Linked DNA regions of Homo sapiens. The protein of the gene in region 5 purifies or fractionates together with the protein of the main gene of each other region. This does not show direct contact. Each region holds a gene or a part of one and is shown on either strand. Other genes may lie near its edges. The genes, in order: TTK, ASB9, ATP12A, TUBGCP2, TREM1, SPCS2 and ECPAS.

Region 1 (4,138 bases), about 39 Mb from region 5:
CTGACAACCACTGTTCTTATTCTGTCAGCTAATTTTTTTATCAGTTGATTTTTATAGTTAATTACTCATGGGTTTTTTATTGTTTTATTTAAATAACAATTGCTACTAACATTTCTGATTTACTAAGTGTCATGCTCTGTATTAGGAGTTACGTCTATATTAACTAATTTAATCTTCACAACCATCCTAGGAGGTAGTTAGCTTTACTAATTTTATAGATAATGAAATGGGCACCGAAAATTTAGGTAACTTGCAAAAGATCACACAGACTGTAAGTAGTGAGGCTAAGATTCATGCCCAGTGTCTCCAAGGCCCATGTTTTCTACCAGTATTAAGCTGCCTCTAGGACAGTTACTAGAAACCAACTTTTGCCTCATCAGCAAAAAATCTTTCCTCTTAGTTTAGTTATTAGTATAATACATTCTAGCAGTACCTCATATTGCTATTCTGATATTTTTGAAAATTTACATTTCCAAATGAATTGTATACTAACAAACAAAATGAAGCTGCTCACTAGCAGCTGACAAAACACAACAAAAAGTAACGCTGGCCAGGCGCAGTGGCTCATGCCTGTAACCCCAGAACTTTGGGGGGCTGAGGCGGGCGGATGGTTTGAGGCCAGGAGTTTGAGACCAGCCTGAGCAACATGGTGAAACCCTGTCTCTAGTAAAAATACAAAAATTAGCCAGGTGTGGTGGTGCGTGCCTGTAATCTCAGCTACTCGGGAGGCTAAGGCACGAGAATCGCTTGAACCTGGGAAGCAGAGGTTGTAGTCACCCGAGATCGCGCCACTGCACTCCAGCTTGGGCAATAGAGCGAGACTCTGTCTCAAAAAATAAATAAATAAATAAATAAATAAATAAATAAAAATAAAAAATAAAAGGTAACCTTGATTCATAAGAGAAATTTTATCCAGCTATTCAAACTGGATCCTTTGGCCTAGTTATTAAGAGTAGCTTCGTAAGCTTCTTCAATAACCAACCTCTCAAAGCCACAAGGCACACTCTTATTAGAATATCAGAAAAGTTTTGTCTAGTGGAAATAAGAATGGCCAAGTTCTTAAGACCTTTCTTGATAACTAGATGCTATAAAAATAAAAGCTGTAAAACGGACTGTATCTTAACATATACCATCATATATAAAGCTTATCGAACCTGTAAATTTTGAAGTGGAGTGGCAAGTATTTGATGCTGTTGCTGCTGGAAACAGGCAGGTTGGCCATAAGGTGTTGACAACTGACAAGCAGGTGGAAAGTCATTCTTTACAACTGGAGTTCTAAAACTAGGAAATATATATATATTTTTATTTAAAACATTACAATTTAACAAATAAGTCTGATTCAGTTTCATGTATTTTAGACTGATATAAACTTAAAAGTGTTACATCAAACAGAACCCAAGTTAGTTTTCATGATATAGCTGACACTTATTCCAGATATGCCACCACCGGATATTTAATTTTGGGGAATTCTTTCTGAAAGTAAATATTTGTATGCAGACAAGAAATCTTTGTTTGAAAAGATGGCATTTAAAATACAAAGTGGTTAGGGTTATTTTATATGAATTTAGCAAACATCAGCTTGTGGCCGGCCATAGATTTTGAGTTTTTTTTTAAACAATAATGTTCTATAATGGCTTGCTAGAAATATCAGAAAGCCAATTACATCACAGGAGTTTGGCCTTTGAGCTTAAATCTGTCCAGTATACATTTGTGCTTTGTTTGCCTTTTTGCTATTAATATATCCTCAACACCTAGAACAATGCTTGGCACAAAAGAGCTCCACAAATATTTGTTAACAATAATTAACCTAGTATCACAAGAAATATCTATTATCGCTATTTTAGTTAGCAATCATTCTTTAGAATATTCTACATATAATAAAATGAGGCAATATATAGTAAAACTATATTAAGTAGGTAAGAGGCTGGGTTATAAAATCTTTAAGACCAGTTCTAATTAAGATCAAGGATTACATTATGAAAATGAAACGCAAAAGACAACACGGATTTAAGCTATCCCCTAAGACATTAAAGATATAGCCACCGGTTGATGGTTATAATGTATCGCATCCCTTTATTTCCTTTCTCTGAAATGTCATTCATTTTCTTTTGTAGTATCCCTTGTGTTCCCTATCAGCACACTCATCATCGAACTTCTTCACTTATCCATCATTCCTATTCACTCAAATACTACACCTTTGAATACCTCCAGAACTACATGAACTGTAAAAACCAATCTCTTCCAGAAGCTATCACTTTCCAATTAACACCACTTATGTGAAAAAATTCATCTACTCTTTATCTGCTCTAAGAATGCTAACCTTTAAAATCTCTCTCTTAATAGAGAGATATCTGTATGGCAATACATGATTATCAAGACGTTTTACATCCTTAGAATATTTATAGGTTGTAGGTACAGATTACGATATGACAGAAACTACATGCACAACAATCCTTAAAAATATGCATTATTGCAACCACTTCCCCCTTTCCATTTTATAGATGAAAACACTGATGCTGAAAAAATAATATGAAGATGGAAAGTCTTTAAAGTAAAAGAGCAGGATTTAATCCCAGATTTATTTGGCCCAGAAGCCCATGTTAATTCTATCATACCACCCTGCCAATCAAGCAAGGGGCCAAAGTAATTACCAGCTCATGTAATCATCCAAGGTATTGCTGCTTGGTGTCTTACAAATAGATTTTGGGTCAAACCATTTAGATGTTGATATTGGTGGTGACTGTTTTGAAACTGAAAAGACAGGTTGCTCAAAAGTGGTATGTTTCTGCTAAAACAAAATAAAGAACACCATGATTTAGTTTTTAAATTAGTTGCCTGTTCACTAGTTTTTACAAATATTATAACTTTTAAAATAAAATAATAACATATGATATACAAAGGCATACTAAAAGAGATAGGCATATATATACATTTTAGACTTTCAATAATTTTTTTAGTGTAGTTATTTTACTCCAAATTCTTAAGCCTAGTGCATTCTGCTCAAACTGATGGCAAGTACAGGGAAGGCACACAAAATTACTTAAAACAGAATTTAACATTCTCTTCCATCAGAGCTATTGTAACAAGTATTAAATTCTTATCATCTAAAATAGTATCCTGTGTTTCTGAAAATCAGCCTTTCTTTAATCAATAAAACTCTATTCCCTTCTCCTCAAATGTAGACAAATACTAATTACTTAGCAAAATGTGGAATGACAAATGCCTATCTTGTGTCCTCCATAAGAAGAGACAGAACCTGTAGAAATTCTTTTTCCAAAAGCATTGTTGGGAAAAAAAAAAAAAAAAGAACCTATAGGATTCATCCTATACAAACCCCAAACAATGATGAAGGAACATCCGCTGCAGCAGAAATCAGCAAATTACAGCCTACAGGCTCAGGCTGAATGTGGCCTGCTGCCTGCCTATTTTTGTAAACAAAGTTTTATTAGAATATGGCTATGCCAATTTGTTTACATATTGTCTATGGCTTTTATTTTCATGCTCTAATGGCAGAGGTGAAAAGCTACAACAGAGCCCATCTAGCCTGGAAAGCCTGCTAACCCTTTACATAAAGTTTGCTAACCCCTGCTGTAGCACATCTCAATTAAATAGAGAACCAAGTTTTGCTTGAATACTTTTAGTAACTAAGCACTCACTAGTCTACAGAGGTTCACTTCAATTTCAGGACAGCTTTAGTTATTAGAAAATATTTGCAGATAATTTGGATTATATTGGTTTATCTATTATAATTTCAACACACTGGTCCTCATTACGCACTTGAGAATTACAATGACTAAATCTATCCTACTTTCTACATTTCAGTCTTGGCCAAGAAATTTTTTTTCCAGGATAAATTTTCCCTCTCATTTAAGACTTCGTGTGTCTGTGCTCACGTACAAGCACGCACATATTTTAAGATTAGTGGTAAAGATGTTACTGAGGAACTGCTGTAATAAGATTAATGAACAAGGAAAATGAAAAAGATCACGATCATAGAGTGGAATGTTAGCATCTGCGATTTTGGAGGTCAGAATTGAGGATATAAGGAGTAGGTGGCTAAAGTAAAATTAAGGAAATGGTCATGAGACACGAAGAAGTTAGAAAAATGAAGGCCAGCTGTAGGACTGGTAATACACAG
Region 2 (4,138 bases), on a different chromosome or scaffold from region 5:
GAATGCTGGGCGGTAGCATAAATCTACTCATCCTGAGAAACGTTTTGCAAAGTCAAGGAGACAAAAAAGAAGTCGGGTTGCTCTGAGGGGACAGGAGTATTTGCCTTCAGTCTTCAGGACACAATAAGGGTGGATTCAGTGGCATGAACCAACCTGCCAGAACCTGGAAAGTATCTGGGTGCTGTATTCACAATTATTGTGGACCTTGGTTTGATCCCAGGACAAACAGAAAGAGGAGAAAAAGAAACAAGAGGCTTACAGTCAGAAACAAACAGAAAGGCCCACTGAGGCAACTCTTGGGCAAGTCAGGCCTGTCCACTGCAGTTCTTTCTCCAGTTCCATCATCCAGCCTCTCCTCTCCTCTTTCTTCTCTCTCTTCTCTCTCTTCTCTTTCCTGTCTCCCTCTCTCTTCTCTCTCTCTCTCTCTCTCTCAATATAAAGCTGCCTTCTCCAAAGGGCCCTCACATTATCACCCATTCTGTCTCAACAGGCAGGTTTTCCCCCAGAAAACTCACCCCTCCTGAGGTGCCCCAATATCTAAAAATTCACCATAAGACAATAAAATTGTTTTCTTTCAATACCTGTTCTAGCTTGTCTTCTGTTTAAATGTGAATACTCTCTACAGGGTGGGCTCAATTTTGCAAGGATAGAAATATCTCTACAGTTGTCAGTCTTCAGGCAAAACCCCAAAAGATAGACACTAACACTGGGAACAGTGATTACCTGCTTGGTGGAATTATGGGTGGTTAGTTTATCCTTCAATGTATTTTCCTAAGTTTCTATGAGTAGGTATAAATTAGCCTCCTAGGGATACCATAACGAAACACCACAAACTGGGTGGCTTAAAACAACAGAAATTTGTTGTCGCCGAGTCCTAGAGGCTAGCAGTTGGCTAGAAGTCTGAAATCAAGGTGTGGACAGGGCCATACTCTATCCAAAGGCTCTAGGGAAAAATCCTTCCTTGCCTCTTCTAGCTTCTGGCAGTGGCCATCAGTCCTTGGTGTTCCTTGGTTTCTAGATGTGTCACTCCTATCTCTGCCTCTGTTGTCACATAGCATTCTCCATGTGTCTCCTTCTCCTTTTCTTATAGGGACTCTGGTCATGTTGGATTAAGGTCCATCCTACCCTACTTACGACCTCACCTGAACTAATCTTAACTAATAAGGTCACATTCTGAGGCACGGGGGTTAAGAACTTAACCATATATATTTTCAGGGTACACAATTTAACTCGTAACAAGCTACTTTCAGGAAAAAATTAAGACATTCTTTCCCTGCTCCTTGGACAGGAGAGTCTAACATGAAACAAATCTCTATAAAGAGTTGGTTGCCCATTTTTATAGCCTTTCCTCCCTCCCTACCCCCAGGGAAGTGGGCAGAAAAACGCCTGCAGGTGGAGGTGGGAGCAGCAAGATGATCCACACCTGGGCCCTATTTTCCCCTCTAACTTGGCCTTGTGCAAAGGGACAAGCTTCACCTGAGCTGAGTTTCTTGGCACAGCTATTTGAAAACAGCATTCTGAGTGTTCCCCATTCCACACTTCACCAAGGTTAAGACCTCAGAAGCATAAACAAAAGCAACCAACTACAATTGAGGTTTTACCCAAGGGGCAGGACTGATGCAAAGCAGACGGAGAATGACTCCACTTGAGTAGGGAGAGGTGGAAAGTCTAGGAGGGCTTCATGGGGGCAATGGCTCAGCTGGGTGTAGAAGGTGAGTAGCAATTTGCCAGTCAGATTCACAACAGGAGGTAAGAAACCAGAAGTATCCAGGCACCTACCCTTGTGACTTCTACTTCTTTGAAAACTTCTCTTCCCTTAGCACCTGTGTAATTACAACATCCAGAATCTCTTTCTGCTTCTCTGTCCAACTTACTGGTCCTACTTCATCAACTGGAGGCCTGTCCCAGGGTTCCATCCTTGGTTGACTCTCAGCTCTTAGCCATTGGACAATTTCTCCCTTCCCTAGGTTTCAACCACAGCCCCTCTGTAGGACATTCTGAGGTATCTGGCTTCTAACCTGTGATCGTTCCTAAGTCTCAGTCCCATGTCATCATACTGTGCACTGGGCATCATTGTTAGCACTATCATGTCCAAAACAGAACTCTGTATCCTCCCCTCCTCATCCTGCATCCAAGGCAACTTCCTTTCCAACTTCCCTCTTATCTAGCTTATCTGACATTACTTTGGGCTTGAGAACCTTATAATTTTGCCTGCCTTCTGTTAGTTCCAACATTTAATCAAGCAACATACGCTGATTTATCTTTCCTTTGAAATCATCGCCCTTTCTCTGTCATTTCCAAAGTTCGATCCAAATGTAAGTTTCATGGTTGGATTAGTGCAGTAGTTTTCAAAGTATGGTCCCTGACCAGTACCATCCATTTCACCTGGGAGTTTGTTATGAATGCAGATTCCTAGGCCCCCACCCCAGGCCTACGACTTCATCAAAAGCTGCATCATCTGCATTTTTTTTTTTTGAGACAGAGTCTCGCTCTGTTGCCCAGGCTGGAGTACAGTGGCATGATCTCAGCTCACTGCAACCTCCGCCCTCCCAAGTTCAAGCAATTCTCCTGCCTCGGCCTCCTAAGTAGCTGGGACTACAGGCATGTGCCAACACACCCAGCTAATTTTTTTTTTTTTTTTTGAGACAGAGTTTCACTCTTGTTGCCCAGGTTGGAGTGCAGTGGTGTGATCTCGGCTCACCACAACCTCTGCCTCCCGGGTTCAAGCGACTTTCCTGCCTCAGCCTCCCGGGTAGCTGGGATTACAGGCATGCACCACCATGCCCGGCTAATTTTGTATTTTTAGTAAAGACTGGGTTTCTCCATGTTGGTCAGGCTGGTCTGGAACTCCCAACCTCAGGTGATCCGCCTGCCTCGGCCTCCCAAAGTGCTGGGATTACAGGTGTGAGGCACTGCACCCAGTCAAATGTTTGTATTTTTAGTAGAGATGGGGTTTCACCATGTTGGATAGGCTGGTCTGGAACTCCTGACCTCAAGTGATCCGCCCACCTCAGCCTCCCAAAGTGCTGGGATTACAGGCGTGAGCCACCGTGCCCAGCCAGAAGCTGCATTATCTGTATTTCAATAAGCTCTCCAGGTGATGTAGAGGCACATGAGAATTTGAGAACCACTGGATGAATGCAACCATCTCCCACGATTCCAACACAATCTATCCCAGCTGTGGCTACCATGTTAATTGACCTACAGCCTTATTACCAGGTCTCTGTTCTAGAACCACCAATGGCTCTCAATTTCCTGCCTCATGAAGCCTGACCTCCTCCACTTAGCTCTTCAAGCTTTATCTGCCACTCCATCTCTTCAAACTTGTTCTCACTAGACTCCCTAAGACATTCACATTTTGCACTCTAGCTGTAAAAACTTGTTGACTTTACAAGCACCATGCCTTTGCGTATAACACCTGCCCACTCCCACTCACCCACCCTGACCCCACCAGGGTTGTATTAGGAACTTTAGAAATCCTGAACAGTTGGCTCACGCCTGTAATCCCAGCACTTTGGGAGGCCAAGGTGGGTGGATCACGAGGTCAGGAGATTGAGACCATCCTGGCTAACATGGTGAAACCCCGTCTCTACTAAAAATACAAAAAATTAGCCGGGCGTGGTGGCGGGCGCCTGTAGTCCCAGCTACTCAGGAGGCTGAGGCAGGAGAATGGCGTGAACCCGGGAGGCGGAGCTTGCAGTGAGCCAAGATTGTGCCACTGCACTCCAGCCTGGGCGACAGAGCGAGACTCCATCTCAAAAAAAAAAAAAAAAAAGAAAAAGAAACCCTAACAGTGAAAAGTGGCTGGTGCCTCTCTCCCATGTGGAAACAAAAATAAATACAATACTTAGCTATAAAATAACCGTGCAGAAGTCAACCAAATTACCGATTCTTTCCCATAATGATTGGTTTGCTGTTTTAAAAATATATTTATCGGCCGGGCACAGTGGCTCACACCTGTAATCCTAGCACTTTGGGAGGCCGAGGCGGGCAGACTTCCCTGAGCTCAGGAGTTGGAGACCAGCCTGGGGCAACATGGTGAAACCCCGTCTCTACTAAAATACAAAAAAAAAACACCCCAAAAAATTAGCCAGGCGTGTGCCTGTAGTCCCACCTAGTCCCTGCCTCTCCCTCCTGA
Region 3 (4,138 bases), on a different chromosome or scaffold from region 5:
TTTTTCTTGAGACAGAGTTTCACTCCCATCACCTAGGCTAGAGTGCAGTGGTGCTATCTTGCCTCACTGCAACCTCCGCCTCCCAGGCTCAAGTGATTCTTCCACCTCAGCCTCCCAAGTAGTTGGGACTACAGGCTTGTGCCACCACACCTGGCTAATTTTTGTATTTTTAGTAGAGATGGGGTTTCCTGGCCTCAAGTGATCCACCTGCCTCGGCCTCCCAAAGTGCTGGGATTACAGGCATGAGTCACTGCACCTGAGCTATAGCAAGCTTTTCAAGACATGAGTCTTCATCCTCAAAAAAAAAAAAGAAATGCCATTGGTCAGTTTCAGCCTATGGGCTTCCCTTTTCTTTTGGGAAGATGAAGCTGTCACTCAGATTAATCACCCAAATAACCACTGGGGGCCCAGTGACTAAAGTGATAATCTCACAGCCACCTCTTGTTAAGTAAGAGAGTCTGACATGGAAGACCTTTACCTAAACACAGTAAGAAGTAGCAGTTATGAAGACTTTATAAAGCCTTGCCCTACAGTAATGTCACCTAAACCTTCCCCTTTTCCAGTATCCATTTAAAGAAAGCCCCGTCTAAGCTGCCCATGTGGCTGTGGCTTACGTGGGCAAGCAGGGAAAGCAACAGACAGCAAGCTGAATTCTTAGCAGGAAACTGGCCCTTCGAAGTGCCCCCTTCCCCTTCAAATTGCCCCCTTCCCCTCTCTTGTTTTCTACAACACCCAGGTAATCCCTAATTCCTAGAGAGACTGGAGATGTCTTTCCCTTTGAGGGGTATTGAGGTCCCCAAAGTTGATGGATCATTTTCCAAGCCCTTCACATTTGCCTGCTTTGCTCTGCTGCAGTGCTTCTCCAGGCCTGGTGCGGGCATCACCTGGGAACTTGTTAGACATGCACACTCTGGGCACTGGTGGACACCTGTAGCCTAGCTACTCAGGAGGCCAATGCAGGAGGATTACTTCAGCTCAGGAGTTTGAGTCCAGCCTGGTCAACACAGAGAGACCTAGTCTCTTAAAAAATAAAAATTAAGAACAAATAAAATAAAAATCTTATTCCAGATAACTGGGCTAGGAATGGAAATAGGTTGTACACCCATTGTCTTTTAAAAAAGAGAAAGAAAGAAAGAGAAAGAGAGAAAGAAAGAGAGAAAGAGAGAGAGGGAAAGAGAGAAAGAGAAAGAGAGAGAAAGAGAAAGAAAGAAAGGAAAGAAAGAAAGAAAGAAAGAAAGAAAGAAAGAAAGAAAGAAAGAAAGAAAGAAAGAAAGAAGGAAAGAGAAAGAGAAATGAATGCAAATTCTCTGGCCCCAGCCCAGTCCTCCTGAATTGGGAAGTCTGGAGGTGGGGCGCAATGATCTGTCTCTTAGCAGGTCCTCCCACCTGGAGGGAGAGGACGGCACAAGAAATTCTCCCTGTAGGGGAAGAGTGTTTTATAACCAGCATCCTTCAGAACTGCCAGCACAGGGTGATAAAAAGCAGCTGATTTCTAAAGGCACTATTCTTAAATTTCCATACAGACAACACGCCCTCTACTGCCTATAGCCTGGATGGGCCAGCTCCATGCCCCCCACCCCATCCAGCCAGTGCCCCACCCACCCCAGCCCCCCTCCCCTACTGTGGGTAGAGCAGAACATCCTGGGGTTAGACCTCACCAGCCTCTTCCCCTCTAGATCCCCTCCATTGCCTTGGCGTACGAGAAAGCTGAAAGTGACATCATGAACAGGAAGCCTCGCCACAAGAATAAGGACAGGCTGGTGAACCAGCCGCTCGCTGTGTACTCATACCTGCACATTGGTACGATGAGGGCGCGTCTTCCCCATCACACGAGGGCCTGCCCCGAGAATTCACTGGAGTGGGGGGCACAGCCAGAAAGTGTGGTTTTCCTGTGGGGCCTGGGTTGGGGAGGGAGGGGGAACCGAGAGTAGACAGGATGAGGCAGTTTCCTGAGGCCATCATAGAACCTGTGTCCTATCTCTCTTGTTCTTTCAGGCCTCATGCAAGCCCTGGGAGCTTTCCTTGTGTATTTCACCGTCTATGCACAAGAGGGCTTTCTGCCCCGCACTCTCATTAACCTGCGGGTAGAATGGGAGAAGGACTACGTGAATGACTTGAAAGACAGCTATGGGCAGGAATGGGTGAGTGGCGGGAGCCCTGCTGCAGAGTCCACCTGATTCTCTCCATGCTCATTGCCCTGCGCAGAATTACATAGAACCTCCATGTCCCTGAACAGCCTGGGAAAGCTTCAATTAATAGGGCTCAGGGCCCCCTTGCTGACACGTGTTTGGCCTTTGCCAGGTCTCATGGCACAGCCTCCTGTCTTGGGCTAGATGACAAGAGGTCCCTTTTTTTACCTTAGCTTTGCCATTGGTATAGAAGAGTGACCAGCCCAGCCACACCCACAGTGCGGCCAAATAAATTTACATCTTTCAGGCCGGGTGCAGTGGCTAATGCCTATAATCCCAGCACTTTGGGAGGCTGAGGAGGGAGAATCACTTGAGCCCAGGAGTTTGAGACCAGCCTGGCCAACACAGTGAGACCCTGCCTGTGTTAGAAATAATAGTAATGATAATTTTTTAAAAAATTAACATTTTTCTCTACTCAGCTGGTTCAAGAAAGAAAAATGTTTCTTTCCAAACACTAGAAGGTGGTCCATTCTCAGTCCGGGTGAGGTGTGGAAAGAACATGAAGCTTTAGAGAACTGCATTGGAATTTCCTAGAAGTTTTCCTTTAGGCCTCAAGGTCTCTTCCTTCTCTGCCCATTAACAGACAAGGTACCAGAGGGAATACCTAGAATGGACGGGCTACACGGCTTTCTTTGTTGGCATCCTAGTCCAGCAAATAGCAGATCTGATCATCAGGAAAACCCGGAGGAATTCCATCTTCCAGCAGGGTCTCTTCAGGTACTGCCTGTGCCCGGCCTCCTGGGGCAGCCCTGGGCCTGCCGTGCAAGGATGATGATGATTTGTTTTTCACAAGACAGAGTTCTGGCCACACTTGTAACCCCAGAGGCATTGATTTTTCTGGTGGCATGGTCTGCTGGGTGTATGATCATGAAGCCACAAGAATCCCAAGTCTGTCTGCTTTTGTGTGTCTTGCAGAAATAAAGTCATCTGGGTGGGGATCACCTCACAGATCATCATTGGTCTGATCCTCTCCTATGGCCTCGGAAGTGTCACAGCCTTGAGTTTCACCATGCTTAGGTGAGTTCACCCTCAACAGCATGGAGGAAAGAGCCAGCCTCTGCTTTGAGCTGTCGCAGCCTAAATAAACCTGAGGATTCCCAGGGTTCTTCCCCAAGTCTTTCAAAAGACGTCAAACTGATCCCATGCTCTGTGAGCCCAAAGCTTTGATCTGCATTTTCCAGAAGTGGAAATGGGTTTTCTAGACCTCACCAACCGGCCTTCATCCTCATCCAACAGGTTGCTTCAAAGGCAGACATTGCTTCTAGCAGTCACAGTGCAGGTTAAACAAGGAGCTTTCCACCTTTATTTTGTGGGACCTCGTGGATTTGTCGTTCTTTGCAGTAAAGCAAGACAAATGAACGAGAAGCCCCATTCCCATTGGGCAGGGTTGGGCTATCCCTGTGGATGAGTCAGGGTTCACTTTCCATCCCTTTGCTTCCAGGGCTCAGTACTGGTTTGTGGCTGTGCCGCACGCCATCCTGATCTGGGTGTATGATGAGGTGCGGAAGCTCTTCATCAGGCTCTACCCTGGAAGTGAGTAGCCTATGATTTTAGAGGCTCTGTTTACCCACTTCAACAGACTCTCCATTTCTGATGTACTTTTTTCTACCTCTACAGGCTGGTGGGATAAGAACATGTATTATTAAGACCACCTCCCTTCCTATGTCTCTCAGCAGCACGTTGGGGCACACTTGTTCATCTTCTGACCGTTTGCTGGGCTATTCCCCTGCAGTGCAGACATCGTCAAAATTCAGACAAGAGGAAATTTTCATGCAGAAAGCTGTATGCAGGATGCTCACTGATGTTTTGCACTTTAAAACTGAAATTCAACTCTTTATATAGGATTTTCTTTTCTATCTCCATCTCCTCATTAAAAAATACGTACATTTCGAGGTAATGGTATAGGGAAGAATGTGTTTATGTGTATTTGAAACTCCTTGATGTTAATA
Region 4 (4,138 bases), on a different chromosome or scaffold from region 5:
CAATTTTGAGGGAATGCTTTCAGATCATTATATTTTCAAGATTCTCGAAAATACAGTAATTTTTATTATTCCTTCTGTATTTGCTACTTGCTCTTGGTTTTGATTTTATGCCCTACCCTGGTCTTTTGACGTAAGTCATCTCCCAGTCTCTCTCATTAGAGCTGCCACGTTCCTGCCTTTGTGACCTTTAAACTCCCTTTGGAGCTGTGTCCCTGAGGCGTCCTAGCCTCCTGGGTGCGTGTTGAGTGCAGCGGCTCCCAAGGACCCAGCCGGTTCTTGCTGGGCACGTTCTGTGCTGGACATGGTGCTAGGCCTCTGTCCACGTCTCCCTCAGCCGTGGCAGAAGACTGGGTCTTACTGCCACGTGCAGAGACAGTTTGCATCTGCCCGTGTCCCTGACCAGCCCTGAGTGGGAGTCAGTGCTTCCGAAAGCTGGGCCAGCCCAGGCCGACCCCATCAGCCTCTGGCGGCCACTGGCGCAGGAGGGCAGGCTCTCTGACCACATGTCAGGAGCCATCCTGTCACGCTGGGGCCCTTCTCCGGCAGGGTAAGGATGCATGTCTGTTGCTGAAGCCTGTCTTCACCCATCAAGTGGTGTTCAGACCTAGTCACTGCCAGAAAGAAGCAATTCAGCTTGTTCACAGGGCGCCCTCCTTTGAAACAGCGGCTCTGTGCCTAGGTGCACCCTCTCCCGTGGTTCCCACTGCTGGTGCTCATGTTTTCCCAGGGGGGCCCTTGCAGGACCTGCACTCCTGAGAAGAGGGGCTAGGGCTCCCCATCTGCCCTGTTGTCCCCAGCCCCTCACGTTGTGGCAGGCAGGGATGTCGAGGCGCATTTCATTTCTATGTGGTTGACCCTTTGTGGGTGTTGAATTGAGTAATCATCTTTGCCGTAGATGCTAGCTTCTATGCATGTCTTTAGTTGAGTGTTTGCGCTAAAGTGTATCTTTCTGGTTTTGTTTTTTAAAATGTCCTTGCTAGTCTCTGGAACTTAAAAGAAAGATGCTTCGAGACAAGCAGAACAAAAAAAATTCAGGCCAGCACCTCCCCATCTTCCCAGCATGGGTGTATGAGAGACCTGCCCTGATCGGGGATTTCCTGATTGGTGCTGGCATCAGCACAGACACCGCTTTGCCGATAGGTACGTGATGCGTTGATTTCCGGGCTCTGCCGATAGGTACGTGATGCGTTGATTTCCGGGCTCTGCCGATAGGTATGTCATGTGTTTATTTCTGGCCTCTGGGCAGGACACTTTGCAGGCCCAGCCCTCCCCCGGGCCTGCCTTTCCTCAGGTTGTGAGGCTCAATGCTGACTGGCTGCCGCCTCCATATTCCCATCCCAGGATGGCAGCAGAGAACGGCTCACCCGGGTCCTTGAGGGTTCTTCTCCTGTCCCTTCTGCCAGAGCTGTGGGGCAGCCTGCAGCAGGCCCCTCCCCAGCCGGCATCCTGGTGCCCTGGTGCAGACCTGCAGGCATCAGAATTGTGTGCAGCACTTATTTCTGAACAGCGATTCATGACTCCCATAGATTCTGTTACAGCAGTATTCTCAGAGGCCTCTTAAGTAGTGTTCGTGTAAACAAGATGCGGGTGAGACCACACAGTCATTTCAAGACGTTGTTATTGGGGACCTGGGATGTGTTCATCTGTCACAATTCATGGGTACATTTTTATTTTTATTTATTTTTAGTTCTTTTGAGATGGAATCTCGCTCTGTCGCCCAGGCTGAAGTGCAGTGGCGTGATCTCGGCACACTGCAACCTCCACCTCCCAGGTTGAAGCGATTCTCCTGCCTCAGCCTCCCAAGTAGCTGGGACTGCAGGCGCCACCACGCCTGGCTAATTTTTATATTTTTAGTAGAGACGGGGTTTTGCCGTGTTGGCCAGACTGGTCTCGAACTCCTGACCTCTGGTGATCTGCCCACCTTGGCCTCACAAAGTGCTGGGATTACAGGCATGAGCCACCACGCCTAGTCAAGTACATTTTTAGATTGAAAAATGAGATTTCACAAACTAAGGACAGAGCATACCTGCTTATCTTGCCCCATCCCCGTTAGTCCAAACTCAAGAGGCAGCATGGAGCGTGGTCTGCTTCCCCACTACTCACGGCTCTGCAATGTGGGCACCAAGGGGCCAACCCTTGCCTTTGCCGGAAACCCTGGAGAACGGTGACGTGAAATCCACCTGTTTTCCTCATCCCCAAGCAAACAGAACCCTGCTGTAAGTTAATGAAAAGTATAGAAAAACCCTGCTGTAAGTTATGAGAAGTATAGAAAACCATGCTGTAAGTTAATGAAAAGTATGGAAAACAGTCTACTTCGGCCAGGCATGGTGGCTCACACCTGTAATCCCAGCACTTAGGGAGGTGAGGTGCGTGGATTCCTTGAGCCCAGGAATTCGAGACCAGCCTGGGCGACAGGACGAGACTAGTCTCTACAAAAAATGTGAAAATTAGCCGAGTGTGGTAGCGTGCACCTGTAGTCCCAGCTACTCAGGAGGCTGAGGTGGGAGGATCACTTGAGCCTGAGAGGTCGAGGCTGCAGTGAGCTGTGATCGTGCCACTGCACTCCAGCCTGGGCAACAGAGCGAGACCCTGTTTCAAAAAAAAAAAAACAAAGCAGTCTGCTTTGTGCAGTGTTTTCAGTAATAATCCAACTGTGAAAACCCAACTGTGAAGACTTAGGGAGAGAGAGCTGCTCCCTTAGCGGGTACTCAGCAGGCAGCCGGGGAGTGGTGGGCACCTGAGAGCTCCTGATGGTACCCAGGCAGACTTCGGAGAAGGAAGCGCGGGGCCCTGCTGCCTGGGATCCCAGCAGTGGAGCCGGCTTTTTGGAGCAGGAGGCACTGAGGGGGTGTTCAGGCTTTCCCCCCATGTTTCCCCATTCAGGGAAGGGGTTGTACAAAAGAGGAACGCACTGTCCAGTAACGCTGCGGCGCCGTGGGCAGCTCTGAGCGTGGCGGTGATTGGCAGCAAGTGTGTGAGACTTGGCTGTGAACCCTGCAGCCAGCTCTCAGGTCAGGGTGCAGGTGCCCTCAGCACACTCAGCATCCCAGGAAAGGGGCGGCCTCGCCCCACCTCCCTCCCACGGCCACATACCACAGGTCCCAGGGGTGCCTCCGGTATTGAGGCTGCCTTGCCTCCCTTTGTCCGCACTGTCCCTGTCCCCTTGTGCCACCTGTGCAGACTTGAGAATGGAGCTCACTGTGGTGTTCATGCCGGGGCCTGTCTAGCTCCTCACCCCACGATTTGACCAGTGCCACACCACGGGACCTTGTGTGACCTCGGGCCTGCGTCCTCTGGAAAACAGCTGTGGAGTGGTGTGATGAGGACAGGTGCCTTGGAAAGCATCAGGACCTTGTGAGCACGAGGCAGCTGCCAGCACTCCACGTTCCCGCCATGCTCTCCTCACCGTGTGGGCATCCACCTGGCCAGCGCCGCCTCCGCAGTGCCCCTCCCTCTGGTCGCTCCCGCGCAGCATGCGAAGGTGTTATCTGCCCGCGTCCTGCCTTTTCCCCACACCGGCACGGAGGAGCCACGTGTTCGGTGGTCGTTCGGACGTGGTGATTTGCAGGTGACATCGCAGGTGTTGAGATGACACTGAGGATGTTGAATATTGGGGAGGTGAAGCAACTGACTCTTTTTTTGCTTGAGACAGGGTCTCACTTCGTTGCCTAGGCTGGAGTGCAGTGGCACAATCTCAGCTCACTGCAGCCTCGACCTCCCAAGCTCAGGTGATTCTCCCACCTCAGCCTCCCGAGTAGCTGGGACTGCAGGTGTGCACCATCACACGCAGCTAATTTCTGTATTTTCAGTAGAGACGGGGATTCGCCGTGTTGCCCAGGCTGGTCTTGAACTCCTGGAGTCAAGCGATCTGTCCACCTTGGCCTCCTAAAGTGATGGGATTACAGGTGTGAGCCACCATACCCGGCCTAAAGCAACCCTTGAGGTCCCTCCACAGCCAGGCGGCTGGATCCACACTAACCCCCACCCCACGGCACCTCCACCCCACCGTGAGGCTTCTCCCCACAAGGGCATTGGCCGAGGCTTCGTGGCTGTGGATGAATGAGGCCAACATGGTGGAAAGTAAGTGATGCAGAGTCAGAGGCAGTTCCTGGAAGATGCACTCGCTGTTCCCAAAACG
Region 5 (4,138 bases):
GGGAGACAAGAGGCTGAACGCTACTGCTGGCAAAGTCTCTCCCACACGCACATGTTCCCTCTAGAAAATGCCTTCATGTCCCACTCTCCTCTGCTTAGATCCTTGCTCCACCTTTCCCGCACTGCCTGACCCTGTGCTTTTCAGTCTGTCTCATTGCCAAAAACTACTGATTAGAAACAATTCAGTGGAGAGTATAGGTCCCTGTCCAGGAGAGGCACTGGAGGGAGACAGTCGGGCTGATCAGCCCATCCTCCTCCCTGTGATGTGGTAGGGAGAGAGGACTCTGGCCAGGAAACCCGCTCTCTATTCTCAGTACCGTACCCTGCCTACTGGGATGGTCATCTCACCTCTTTAGCTCGGTTTCCTCACCTATAAACCGAGAAGAATCCACCCGTAGTGAAAATCTCATCATGAATTTTATAGATTTTGGCGAAATGATTCTAAGGTTTCTGGGTAAACATCAATAGGTATCATAATAAAAAGATGCAAAGGAGTGAGGGCACTTGGCCAGTTCCATCAGCAGACATGCAAGCAGATGAGAGCACAAGGATGTGGCATGGTAAGACACAGGGACAGACAGATGGCAATGGAACACAAAGGCCAGATGCAGAGCCAGTGCTATGCAGGAACATAATGTCTAAGGAAATCAGAGGTCCAGTGGATAAGCCGGACGTGGTAGCATGCACCCATGGTCCCAGCTACTTGGAGAGGCAGGAGGATCATTTAGTAAATAGTCTTGCAGTATCTGGACAGCAACATGGTAACGGTGTAGGCTTTTCTACAGTTTATAGCATGTAGCAGAATAAATCTTCCCCCGGACTAAACATTTAAATAAAATAAAAAAAAAACAATCCAAGAAAAGTCACCAGGAAATAGAATCAAACACATTAAGGAATAAAGCAAAGCAATTGATTTAAAATCAACACACCCACCTATACAAAACTTAAAACCACATGCACAAACTAGCAAAGAGGGAAACGGCGTAAAGGAGCTAGAAAGCAGAAAACTGCCTATTTGCCTGAAATCCACCCCCATTCAAGGGCCCTGACTTGTAGCACAGGGGACTACATTCCCAAGCCTGACTGGTCGAGTTCAGCAACTGGTGGGGGACAGGGGGCAGAGACGGGGGCAGGGATGGGGCAGAGAGACAGGCAGCAAGGGGCAGGGAGCCAGCATCTCTCTCACCCCTCACATGGTGGCGCACTCAGCATCCTCAGCATCTGCCCCGATTCCAGTGCTGCAACCTGAATGTCCTGGCTTCCGGGCTCTGCTCACTGCACCTCCTCCCCAAGTCTCTCCTGCCAGTGCTCTGCATTATCCACTCTGAGTGCTTTACCATTTTCCTATGCTGAACTCCTGGGGCATGTCCACTCCCAACAGGCCACCATCTGCATTTTTTTCGAGGCTGCACACAAGCTACCAACCCCCTGAAGGGCCAGGAATTCATGTGCTTGGCCTTGGTTAGAGCTGCCCTTGCTCAGTTACTGCCCCTTATAGGGACAACTCCAAATGTGACCCAGGAGTCCCCAGAGCTCCTTAACAAGACTGAGCCAGAGTTATCCTGTGAGATACCCCTTGGTTATGACACGCTTGCTTGGCTTCCTTCCCTTCCTGGTCCCACTTCCTCAATGGCTTTGCCAGAAATCACTTCCTAAAACATTTTTCTTTTTGTCTTTTTTTTTTTTTTTTTTTTTTAGAGAGAAAGAGAGCAGGATCTTGCTCTGTTGCCCAGGCTGGAGTACAGTGGCTTGATCACAGCTCACTGAAGCCTTGATCTCCCAGGCTCAAGTGATCCTCCTGCCTCAGCCTCCCGAGTAGCTGGGACCATGGGTGCATGCCACCATGCCCTGCTAATTTTTTTATTATTTTTTTGTAAAGACGGAGTCTTGCTATGTTGCCCAAGCTAATCTCAAATTCCTGGGCTCAAGTGATTCTCCCACCTCAGCCTGCCAAAGTGCTGGGATTATATGTGTGAGCCACAACACCTAGTCCTAAAACATTTTAACAAGACTTTACAGCTTGCTTCTGGGGAAACTACCTAGAGATAGGGTGATAGTGGCTACCTCTGCAGTGCCTCTCCATCCCCAGGATAGCGTCTCAGCTCTTCCATCACCTGGGCAAACAATTCCCTGCATTAAATTCCTTCGTTTCATGGCTGGATGTGGTGGCTCACACTTGTAATCCCAGCACTTTGGGAGGCCGAGGTGGGAGGATCACTTGATCCCAAGAATTCGAGATCAGCCTGGGCAACACAGGGAGACCCCCATCTCTACAAAAATAATAAAAAGTATTAGCTGTCCTGGTGGTATGCACCTGTGGTCCCAGCTACTTGGGAGGCAAAGGTGGGAGGAGGTTGAGGCTACAGTGAGCCATGATCGTGCCACTCCACTCCAGCCTGATTGACAGAGTGAGACCGTGTCTCAAAAAAAAAAAGAAAAGAAAAAGAAAAAAAGCTTCTTCTTTTCAAACAGCTAGTGTGGATTCCACTTTCCAGACTGGATTTTGGCTGAAAGGATAGTTCATATTAGATGATAGATAAAGTTAACAGATAAAAGAGAGATGCAGTCTCTAGCAGCAAGGCAGGAGAATAGGGTCTGGAGGCAGGAACGTAAGACCAATTCATGCTGAATCATGGAGCAACACCAAGGTCTAGGGGCAAGAAATCTAGGATGGATTCGTGCTGACTTCCCATAGCTGGATCAAAAGGAAAACTCCTGGGGCTGGGGTCAGGGAACCTAAGGCCAATTAACATAAACTTTCTAAAGCTAAAACAAAAGGAAAAACCCCATCTCCCCATGCCCCAGCAGCAAAGAATCAAAGGCTACTCTCCCTACAGCCCTCCCCCTTCCACCACGTCTCAGCTGGAAAGGGAGAGTGTCTTAGATTGGCCCTGAGCCAAGCAGAGACGACCATCCCTTTACCCACAGAGGGCGCCAATTCACCTTAGCCTTTAGTTAGCCACAAACCAAATGCTTCATCCAGATAAGGGGTAACTGGGAGGAACTTCACGTGGAGTACTTAAAACCCAGAAAACTTTGTAACTTGGCCCTTGAGCCACTTGCGTGGGGCCACTTCTACCCTGGGGAGCGCTTTCTCGCTTAAATAAATTCCTGCTTTCACTGCTTCATTCCTTTGTTACTTTGTGCGTCTTCTCCAATACTTTGATTAAAAGGCCCAGAACCTGGACAGCTTACACTTAAGGCCCTCCTTCCGGTAAAAGTAAGAATATGGGCAAAGATTATGTTCTCTTAACTTATGTATTGCAAAATGAAAGTAGAGGAAAAAAAAAAATTGACTCTTAGTAGATCATTCGTTTGATTTATTCCACAGAAGTTTAATGAGCACTTTGTTCCCCAAACAACATAATGGGGAAAAAGGCACTGCCACTACCCATATGGAGGTGGAGTCTACACTCATAGAGAAATTAGAGCAGGCACCAGTTCACATTTGTTTTAGCAGGAATGTGATTTAACTCACACTATTTAATGATTTAAAAGACTAAATCCGTGTCTGTAAGCCTGCCATGACACTGCTTTATTTATGCTTAATGGATCACACTGCAAATTGTTTCCAATCTTTTGGAAGACCATTGGTAGATGCTATTTGTATACAAAATGATATCAGTGTTTAAATTATCTCATGGAAATTTCGAGTTAATTATTTAAAAGAAGAAAAATATATCTGCAAGAATATGTTTATCTCAGAGTTATCAACACTATATCAATGTCTAAGAACAGGCCAATGGTTATGTAAGTTATGGCTTTCCCAATTGATAGAAAAATATGCACTCATTGAAATTATATTTATGAAATTTAGGTAGCAGCATCAAAGAATAATTTCAGCAAGGAAAAGAATAAAAACATGTATAATTAGACTTACTGCCATATTAAAATATGTATAAACATGAATAAAGACTAGAAGAGAATATGAGAAAAAAGACATGTTAGACTAGTGGTGATGTGGAAAAGTATTTCCATCCTGATAATTCAGTATTTAATGATAAACACATTCTAATATAAATCAACATTTAATAACTGTAAAGAGGTGTGAAATTGCTAAGTTAGTGGTTCTTAAGTTTGCCTACACATTAGAAATCTCCTAAACATCTTATTAAAAATACTGAGAGGGACCTCATCTG
Region 6 (4,138 bases), on a different chromosome or scaffold from region 5:
GCTTTGATTTGGGATTATATGCACCCCTTTCCAGAGTCCAAACCCGTTTTGGCTTTGTGTGTCATATCATATCCTTTATTTATGCTCAGGTTGTTTTCTAGTGACTATTTTTTTAAATCTGCTGATATTTCTCCCTACAAAAAACAAAACGGACTTTCATATTAGGGCTTGCTAATGTTAGAATTCAACATTTTGAGCTGTGATGTTTATATAGTAAATATCTATCAGTTTATATAGTAACTGTCACTGATATTTTATGTTTTGTATGGTTATTTTATCGTAATTCATTTTTGTTATTAATGTAGAGGTTATTGTCCTAATATGAGCACTTAATAGCAAAACACATAGTAATAGTGAACCCAGCTCTTCTCATTTCTAGCCCAGAACTTTTCCCGTTAGACGTGGCTGCTTCAAGCCACTCATTCTAGGATATTAGGAAAGGATCTGATTTTGGAGACTCAGATCTGTATTAAGTTTACTTGAAGCTGAGGAGCTGAACTGGAAAGTACTGAGCATGAGATACAAGTGTGGCTTGTATTACAGTGGAATTAAGAACTTATTCTGGAGCTAGAGAATATGGGTTTGAAATCCAAGGTATCTGTGATCTTGTGCTAATGAAAATTTACTTATTTTTGAGATGATTTGAATACCACTCATTTATAAATATGGGTAGCATTCAGAATTATCATAAAGATTAAATGAGAGATTTTATATTGTATTTGATACATAATCATTTCCTTTCCCCTCTTTTTTATGATAAATGTAAGATCATGGTCGTTGCCTACCCAGCGTGATTTTTTTTCTCAAGAAGTTGAATATAAAGAACTTAATTATACTTCACTATTAAAATAGGTAATTTTGGTTGGTAGTTTACTTTTTTAAACAATGTTACCACTACCTAAATTTTGTTTTGTTTTCTTTTTTTTGAGACAGGGTCTTACCGTGTCACCCAGGCTGAAGTACAGTGGTGTGATCATGACTCACTGCAGCGTCAGCCTCCTGGCTCGAGCAATTCTCCCACCTCAACCTCCTGAGTAGACGGGCACATGCCACCATGTCTGCCTAATTTTTAAATTTTTTACAGAGACAAGGTCCTACTACGTTGCCTAGGCTGGTCTCAAAACTCCTGGGCCCAAGCAATCCTCCCAAAGTGCTGGGATTACAGGCATAAGCCACTGTGCCCAGCCAACCTGAAATATGTTTTAAAACTTCATGTTGGGGATTTATCTTCAGAGGCAGTTAGCAAACCTCTGATAAAGCAGATCCTAGTCAAAAATTGTATTATCCAGATTGCCCCACATTTCCCCCAGAAGTGGCACCAGGTGATCCTTGACTCCTTTCAGTAATCAGATTAATCATCCCAGTATGAATTTTTCACTATTAAGGCAGTTCAGAAGAATAATATTCCATAGGTTCTAGAGACAGTTCCCAGGGGAATTCCAAAGAGATTTGAAAATGATAGCAACATTATTACAAATATCTGGCCTCCCAAGAGAACTACCTTGATGGTAATTCATTTGTTTGGTTATATTTGTTTAATAAAACAAGGTCTTATTTTTGTCATGTCAGTTTTATTTATAATGTAGGGACTACCATTATAAATGTCTTCTGTTGCTGGGCATCGTGGCTCATGCCTGTAATCCCAACACTTTGAGAGGCCAAGGCGGGCGAATCACTTGAGCCCAAGAGTTCAAGGCCAGCCTGAGCAACTTGGAGAAATCTGTCACTACTAAAAATACAAAAATTAGCTGGGCATGGTGGCGCATGCCTGTAGTCCCAGATAGTTGGGAGGCTGAGGCACAAGAATCACTTGAATCCAGGGGGCGGAAGTCACAGTGAGCCGAGATCTGCTACTGCACTCCAGCCTGGGCGATAGAGCAAGACTCTGTCTCAAAATAAATAAATTAATTAGATAAAATAAAAAATAAATTAGCTGGGTGTAGTGGCACACACCTATAATCCCAGCTACTGAGGAAGCTGAGATGGGAGGATTGCTTGAGCCTGGGATGTTGAGGCTGCAGTGAGCTGAGATCATGCCACTGTACTCTAGCCTGGGTGACAGAGTGAGACCCTGTCTCAAAAAAAAAAGTCTTCTGTATCCTAGACTGCATATATCCTTCATCTCTAAATCTCATGATAATTCTAAAACATCAGTATTATCCCAATTTTAAAGGTAAGGATACTAAGACTTGGGGAAGGAAGTTATTTGTTACAATCATACTGATTAAAGGCCAAGATTTAAATCTAGGATTATCTCTACTCTAAAGTCCATATACTTTGTACTATATTTTCCTGCCTTTCCTGTTCATGAAATTTATCTATTTTTTAACTCTTCTTTAATGGAATGCTTCATGAATTTGCCTGTCATCCTTGTGCTAGGGCCATGCTAACCTCTGTATCGTTCTAATTTTAGTATATGTGCTGCCGAAGCGAGCACTGTTCATGAAATTTATTTTTATTTTATTTATTTTATTTTTATTTTTTGATACAGGGTCTCACTCTGTTGCCCAGGCTGGAGTGCAGTGGCACGATCTTGCCTCACTATAGCCTCTGCCTCCCAGGTTCAAGTGATTCTCCTGCCTCAGCCACACAAGTAGCTGGGATTACGGGCCTGCACCACTACATCCAGCTAATTTTTTTTTGGTTTTTGTGGGTTTTTTTTGTTTTTTTTTTTTTTTGAGACAGAGTCTTGCTGTGTCACACAGGCTGGAGCACAGTGGCACGATCTCGGCTCACTGCAACCCTGCAACCTCTGCTTCCTGGGTTCAAGCCATTCTCATGCCTCAGCCTCCTGAGTAGCAGGACTACAGGCATGTACCACCATGCCCAGCTAATTTTTGTATTTTTGGTAGAGACATGGGGTTTCACCATGTTGGCCAGGCTCATCTCGAACTCCTGACCTCAAGTGATCTGCCCACCTCAGCCTCCCAAAGTGCTGGGATTACAGGTGTGAGCCACCACGCCTAGCCTTAATTTTTGTATTTTTAGTAGAAATGGGGTCTCCCATTGTTCCTTGTTGGCCAGGCTGGTTTCAAACTCCAGGTCTCAAGCAATCCACCTGCCTCGGCCTCCCAGAGTGCTGGTATTAAAGGTGTGAGCCATCGTGCCCAGCCTTGTTTATGAAATTTAAATGGCACAGTATACACAAAGCTCTTATGCCAGTTTTTGGCAAACTATAAGTGCTTATTAACTATGGTACTTAATACTGTCAAAAACAATATAATAATAAGTCTATATGCATATAGGAAGTAATCGTAGTACTATTTGACATACTCTCTTATAGTAAACTATTTGGGTCACTTTTCTTCTCTTAATAACCCTTAAAATCAGTTGAACATGGTCAAGTCCACTGGGACTATTCGTTGTTTTTTATAAAGAAATAAGCACTATTATAACAAAGTCTTGACAAACTAGGTATCTTATTATACATGTTGTCTTTGAACATAAAGATGAGAGCTAGTTTATGCTCTGTATCTTTTTCTTTTCTTCCTTTCTGAGGTGTTTGCAGAATTAACCAGAGAGAGCCTTGCTTCTCTTGGTATATAAACATAAGGATGAAAATGAAATAGCTAAATTTTCAGTGTTTTGGCAGCAAGACAAAGCTGTCTTCTTTAGGACTATCATTATGAAAGTTTTTATATCTGTTGCTTGTCAATTTGTGTTACTTCTCTTTTATGTTTGGGTATTTTCCCCTTAACTTTATTTGAACCTATTTTGTGATGATGGGGATTCTGACCATTTATACCTCATATAAGGAGAAGAGCATCTTTCTCGTGGCCCACAGGAAAGATCCTACAGGAATGGATCCTGATGATATTTGGCAGCTGTCCTCCAGTCTTAAAAGGTATGACTATCCTCACAGATTTTTAAATCCTGGTGTTGGATTTGCCCTGGCATGTTGTCATTATCAACAGAAGACTTATTATGTGCCTACTCTATGTGGATCATAGGGCTAGTCATATAAAATGAAGAAAGGAGTATGGATGATCTAGAAGGTTTGTCCTAGCCCTATAGTTCTGAGATTGCGTTATCACAGAAATGCTCTGAGGATAAACTGTGGGAGAAGGTACTTTTTCCTGTGGCCAGTTAACAGAGACGATTAAGCATACAAAAGTATAAAGGCCAAAGATGTGAGATC
Region 7 (4,138 bases), on a different chromosome or scaffold from region 5:
CAGGCTTTGCCCAGGCTTTCAAAGGCACCCAGCAGATATTCCAGCTGGAGCTCCTTTTCCTTTTCATTCTCCTCTTCATTTTTGGTTGTCCGGACCCCACTGCTTTCAAGTGAGTTCTAGGATATATCAAAGAAAAGAAAATGTAATATTTTCTTCTTCAAAGTTACAGGTATACTATTAAAGCTATCAGGGTACCAACCAAGGCAGGAGATATTAACCAAGAGTTAAATGATAAATTCTCTACCATAAGTTTCCCTATTTACAACAAGAATTTATAACCAGAATACTGTATCTCTAATAAATTTAGGCAATACTTTACAGGCATCTGTAAACAAAAGCTAAAAAATACTGCATATGTAGTCTTTTGAGCATAACATGAAAAGACTTGCATTAGAATCAGATTTTAAAGATGGAAGAAACTCAGTAATGATCTAAATCCAAACTCTTTCTTGATAGAGAAACAGAGGCTAAGAGAAGCAACTGGTCCAGCTTGCTAGTGATGTAATCAACTTAAAACACAAGTCTCCCAAATCCATATGCTATCACTATGTTTGTAATGGAAATTATTTAAATAGCCTTATTACTGAAAGAAAACAACTGCAATTTAGGAGCAATAAGAAATAAGAATGTTACTTAAAATATTTCATGTTTCACAAATAAACAGGGAAACCACACCCTTTTTTTTGGGGGGGGGACCAGTGCCCAACTTTTAAAAATGAGTATTCCATTTTCCACATGAAACTTGAGTCTTTTTTTGACCCAAATCCTCCACTATATGGCAGAGGCAATTCACATGGCACACTGAGCTTCTTGCCTTTACTCTAGGATGGCTGGGGTGGCTTAGCTTATTAGCCAAGGCAAAGCTTATTATGACATAAACTGTTCATTCACTACCAAATCCACTCTCCCCTTCTCCCATGGAGGGCAAATGGACACCCAGAATGAAGACTCAGTCTGCTGCCAGGTGTGGCTAAGTACTGACCAACAGGATGGCTATAAGTCAAAGTGCCATCTAGCGGTGCCCAGGAACTCTCCTCAAGAGAGACATGGCATGCCCACTGTATCCTTCATCCTTGCTTCATCTCCTCTGCATTCCTGCCTAGAACACAAACACACTGTGGACCATGAGGATGATGACCACACCCTAGAAATGGCAGAGTTCAGAGCTGTAAAGAGACGGAATACCTGAACACTTTGTGATGCTCCCAACGCTTTGTGAGAAACATAGCATTGACTATCTTGTTTAAGGCCGTATTTTGGAATTTCTCTGCTACTTGCAGCTAAACTAATCCTAATAATCAGGACATAGGGGAAAACAATTTTTTAACTTTTTCTTTTTAAAGTATAAACCAGAACTGAGGATACAGGTGGTATTACCTTCTTGATGAGAGGTATGACAATGTTAGAGAACTCCTGGAATCTGTCCTCTTTGGTGGCCTTCAAGATATCAGCTGCACAGCTGATTGCTACAATCTTGTATTTGACATTCTCTTTGCTACATTCCTTCAGAACAGCTTGAAGAATTTCATTTGTGCTGGGTTGATTGGGCACAGACTTTTCCAGCTCTGCACTACAGGGTCCATACAAAAGCATCAGAAGTTAATAAAGGCTGCAGTTTTCGGGTCCAGTTTAAGAAATGGCATCTTCATTGAAAGAACATTTACCTGCAAGCTGTCACCACACAGGCAATGGCTTTCAATAGCTCCTCCTAAGGGGTTGAAAGATGAGGAAATACTATTAAGCCCAAACATGTCATTTACACTGTCTAAACCATGATTACAATTACCTTAGGAATTTTTGATAACTATGACAACAAAAATTAACAACAGTCACCTTATCTTTAATGCATAATTTTAAGCACATCCACCAAGTTTTACTCCAAACCATGGATGTAGGATAATTATCTTCACCTCCATTTCATAGAAGCCTAAAGAACTGATTCGACCCAGGTCTCACAGAAAACAGTGTCAACCACAGAATTGGAATGATGTCTGACTCCCAGTCCGGTACTACTTCATTCCTGCATGGGCCACTATTGACCTTTACAACATAAAGATCATTAGGTTACCACAATCTCATGTTCCCCACTGAGTGTTCACTGTTAAGAATCCTACTAAAGCTCTTGTGTAAAAAAATAACTGTTACTAATTCATAGGTCCCAGAGATGGGCATCTTCAGCCCCAGGTTTAGAGGCAGGCTACCTTGCTACTCTATTTCACATATGCCCAATCCTGATCTTTCTATGCCCAATCCTGATCTGTTCATGAGGTCAACAGGTACAAAATGCTGACAAGTTGGTTTAAGACGTAACTTGGAAGGCTGAATATGGAAAATGTATCTATCTCCAGCATTACTGTCCATTATGCAAGGCCACACGGGTTGCAGTTTGAGAGGAAATACCACAGTTAATCAGGCAAGGTTTACCCAAAGCTTCCACTGTCTAGGAAATCTAGTTCACAAAAATAATCCATTGGAAAAGTTACACAAAACCAGATCGTTACTATTATGCAAAATGAAAGATGAAGTCAGAATCCCTTTAACTGGGTATGAATGGTTCCTTTACCTTTCCTGCCCACGTTCTTCCAGCCAGGCCTTGCAGCAATGCGGTCAGTATCATTCCGAGATATGGAGGTACTAGAGAGCTAGTCTGTTTTGCAATTGATGCCATGGCAATTGCACCCTGGGCTTTCATTTTCCAGGACTGAGACTGCAAAGCCTTCTGGGTAATAGTAATTAACTCCTGCAGGTATAATCGAATGCCACCAAAGGATCCTAGGAAAGCAAAATTAAAACAACTTTTAAGTGACAAGAAAAATTAACTGATTTTTCTAAACCTGAAAAAAAGTCAGTGACCAACAGTCTAAAAGCAGTGACTCTCAACTGTTAAAACACACCACTCTCTCAAAGGGAGAGAAAGTGTGTTGGTGTTGTGACTTATTCTCACAATAGTAGAACTTTACGAACTTGGGTGCCCACAGGAACGTATCACACAAATGGGCATCATCAATTAATATGCGACAAGGTGAAAAACACATTTAGAAAACTACTCTAAAATACTCTAAGGCCACATAAAATCACACTCTTAATTAAAAATGTAAAGCTCTCCTTGCTCACAGGGTTTATATTCTCTCATGTGGGCAGTGATGAATGAGTAAAGACAAAAATCCTGAGTGCCAACCTTGAGAACTCAGCAATTTGGATGGGTTCAAAACTAAATGGGATGAGCAATTTGGATGGGTTTAAAACTAAATGGGATGCATATTAAGGTCCTGGGAAAGTAACTTCAGAGGAGTTTATGAATAACGAATGCAAGTAAAAAATTCTAGCTGTGATTCCTAAGAAGCAGGTTTAACTCAGGCCACACTACTAACCAGGTACGTTTTCCTGCCACACTTCGGTCCATAAATTACATTCTTCTTTTTCGGATTTCTCCTCATCAGCAATTTCATGCATGCCTAAAAATGCCAGAGGCAGGACTTCTTTTGCATGATTCTTTAATACATCAGGGCTGTATCGTCCAATAGCATGAATAGTCAAAGCACAAGAGGTCTTGTAGATAGGTTCTGAAAAGGAGAAACCAAAATCTTTACGATATTTATTGTTTTTAAGGGTAACTGATCTAAACAGGCTATTGTTCAACTCATATAATAGCAAAACAAACAGGTAAAATCAATTAGAAATGTTTCTAGCAGGCTGGGTTGTGGTGGCTTACACCTGTAATCCCAGCACTTTGAGAGGCCAAGGTGAGCAGATAGCTTGAGCTCGGGAGTTTAAGACCAGCCTGGGCAACATGGCGAAACCCCACCTATACAAAAAATACAAAAATTAACCAGGCGTGGTGGCACGTGCCTGTAGTTCCAGCTACTCAGGAGGCTGAGACACAAGAATCGCTTGAGCCCAGGAGGCTGAGGTTGCAGTGAGCTGAGATAGCACCACTGCACTCCAACCTCAGCGACAAAGCCAGACACCATCTCAAAAAAAAAGAAAAGAAAAGAAACAAATGTTTCTAGCAAATCACATAAAATCATGGAGGGTAAGACCTAATTTGTACTGTTTTACTGGGCTGTTAACATCTAAATTTAAAATGACATAAAATAGAAAAAGAAAGGTACCTTCTTTCTCCATATACCACCCATTG

Evidence for each region.
Region 1: the proteins of TREM1 (region 5) and TTK purify together in Homo sapiens (affinity purification with mass spectrometry; one large-scale study listed by BioGRID and IntAct). This does not show direct contact.
Region 2: the proteins of TREM1 (region 5) and ASB9 purify together in Homo sapiens (affinity purification with mass spectrometry; one large-scale study listed by BioGRID and IntAct). This does not show direct contact.
Region 3: the proteins of TREM1 (region 5) and ATP12A purify together in Homo sapiens (affinity purification with mass spectrometry; one large-scale study listed by BioGRID and IntAct). This does not show direct contact.
Region 4: the proteins of TREM1 (region 5) and TUBGCP2 purify together in Homo sapiens (affinity purification with mass spectrometry; one large-scale study listed by BioGRID and IntAct). This does not show direct contact.
Region 6: the proteins of TREM1 (region 5) and SPCS2 purify together in Homo sapiens (affinity purification with mass spectrometry; one large-scale study listed by BioGRID and IntAct). This does not show direct contact.
Region 7: the proteins of TREM1 (region 5) and ECPAS purify together in Homo sapiens (affinity purification with mass spectrometry; one large-scale study listed by BioGRID and IntAct). This does not show direct contact.

Annotation. Positions count from the first base shown.
Region 1 is NC_000006.12:80,025,028-80,029,165, reverse strand, and holds part of TTK (dual specificity protein kinase TTK), read right to left. Parts: intron 2,789-4,138; coding exon 2,652-2,788; intron 1,282-2,651; coding exon 1,155-1,281; intron 1-1,154.
Region 2 is NC_000023.11:15,263,179-15,267,316, forward strand, and holds part of ASB9 (ankyrin repeat and SOCS box protein 9), read right to left. Parts: intron 1-4,138. UniProt on the Homo sapiens protein: Substrate-recognition component of a cullin-5-RING E3 ubiquitin-protein ligase complex (ECS complex, also named CRL5 complex), which mediates the ubiquitination and subsequent proteasomal degradation of target proteins.
Region 3 is NC_000013.11:24,707,688-24,711,825, forward strand, and holds part of ATP12A (potassium-transporting ATPase alpha chain 2), read left to right. Parts: intron 1-1,676; coding exon 1,677-1,800; intron 1,801-1,995; coding exon 1,996-2,141; intron 2,142-2,772; coding exon 2,773-2,906; intron 2,907-3,104; coding exon 3,105-3,206; intron 3,207-3,630; coding exon 3,631-3,722; intron 3,723-3,806; coding exon 3,807-3,835; 3' UTR 3,836-4,138. UniProt on the Homo sapiens protein: The catalytic subunit of a H(+)/K(+) ATPase and/or Na(+)/K(+) ATPase pump which transports K(+) ions in exchange for Na(+) and/or H(+) ions across the apical membrane of epithelial cells.
Region 4 is NC_000010.11:133,294,954-133,299,091, reverse strand, and holds part of TUBGCP2 (gamma-tubulin complex component 2), read left to right. Parts: intron 1-980; coding exon 981-1,140; intron 1,141-1,687; coding exon of another isoform or gene 1,688-1,771; intron 1,772-4,138. UniProt on the Homo sapiens protein: Component of the gamma-tubulin ring complex (gTuRC) which mediates microtubule nucleation.
Region 5 is NC_000006.12:41,276,235-41,280,372, forward strand, and holds part of TREM1 (triggering receptor expressed on myeloid cells 1 isoform 1 precursor), read right to left. Parts: exon of another isoform or gene 3,303-4,138; intron 1-3,302.
Region 6 is NC_000011.10:74,965,856-74,969,993, forward strand, and holds part of SPCS2 (signal peptidase complex subunit 2), read left to right. Parts: coding exon 1-68; intron 69-3,709; coding exon 3,710-3,844; intron 3,845-4,138. UniProt on the Homo sapiens protein: Component of the signal peptidase complex (SPC) which catalyzes the cleavage of N-terminal signal sequences from nascent proteins as they are translocated into the lumen of the endoplasmic reticulum.
Region 7 is NC_000009.12:111,369,058-111,373,195, forward strand, and holds part of ECPAS (proteasome adapter and scaffold protein ECM29), read right to left. Parts: coding exon 4,113-4,138; intron 3,564-4,112; coding exon 3,372-3,563; intron 2,773-3,371; coding exon 2,564-2,772; intron 1,709-2,563; coding exon 1,665-1,708; intron 1,571-1,664; coding exon 1,378-1,570; intron 117-1,377; coding exon 1-116. UniProt on the Homo sapiens protein: Adapter/scaffolding protein that binds to the 26S proteasome, motor proteins and other compartment specific proteins. May couple the proteasome to different compartments including endosome, endoplasmic reticulum and centrosome.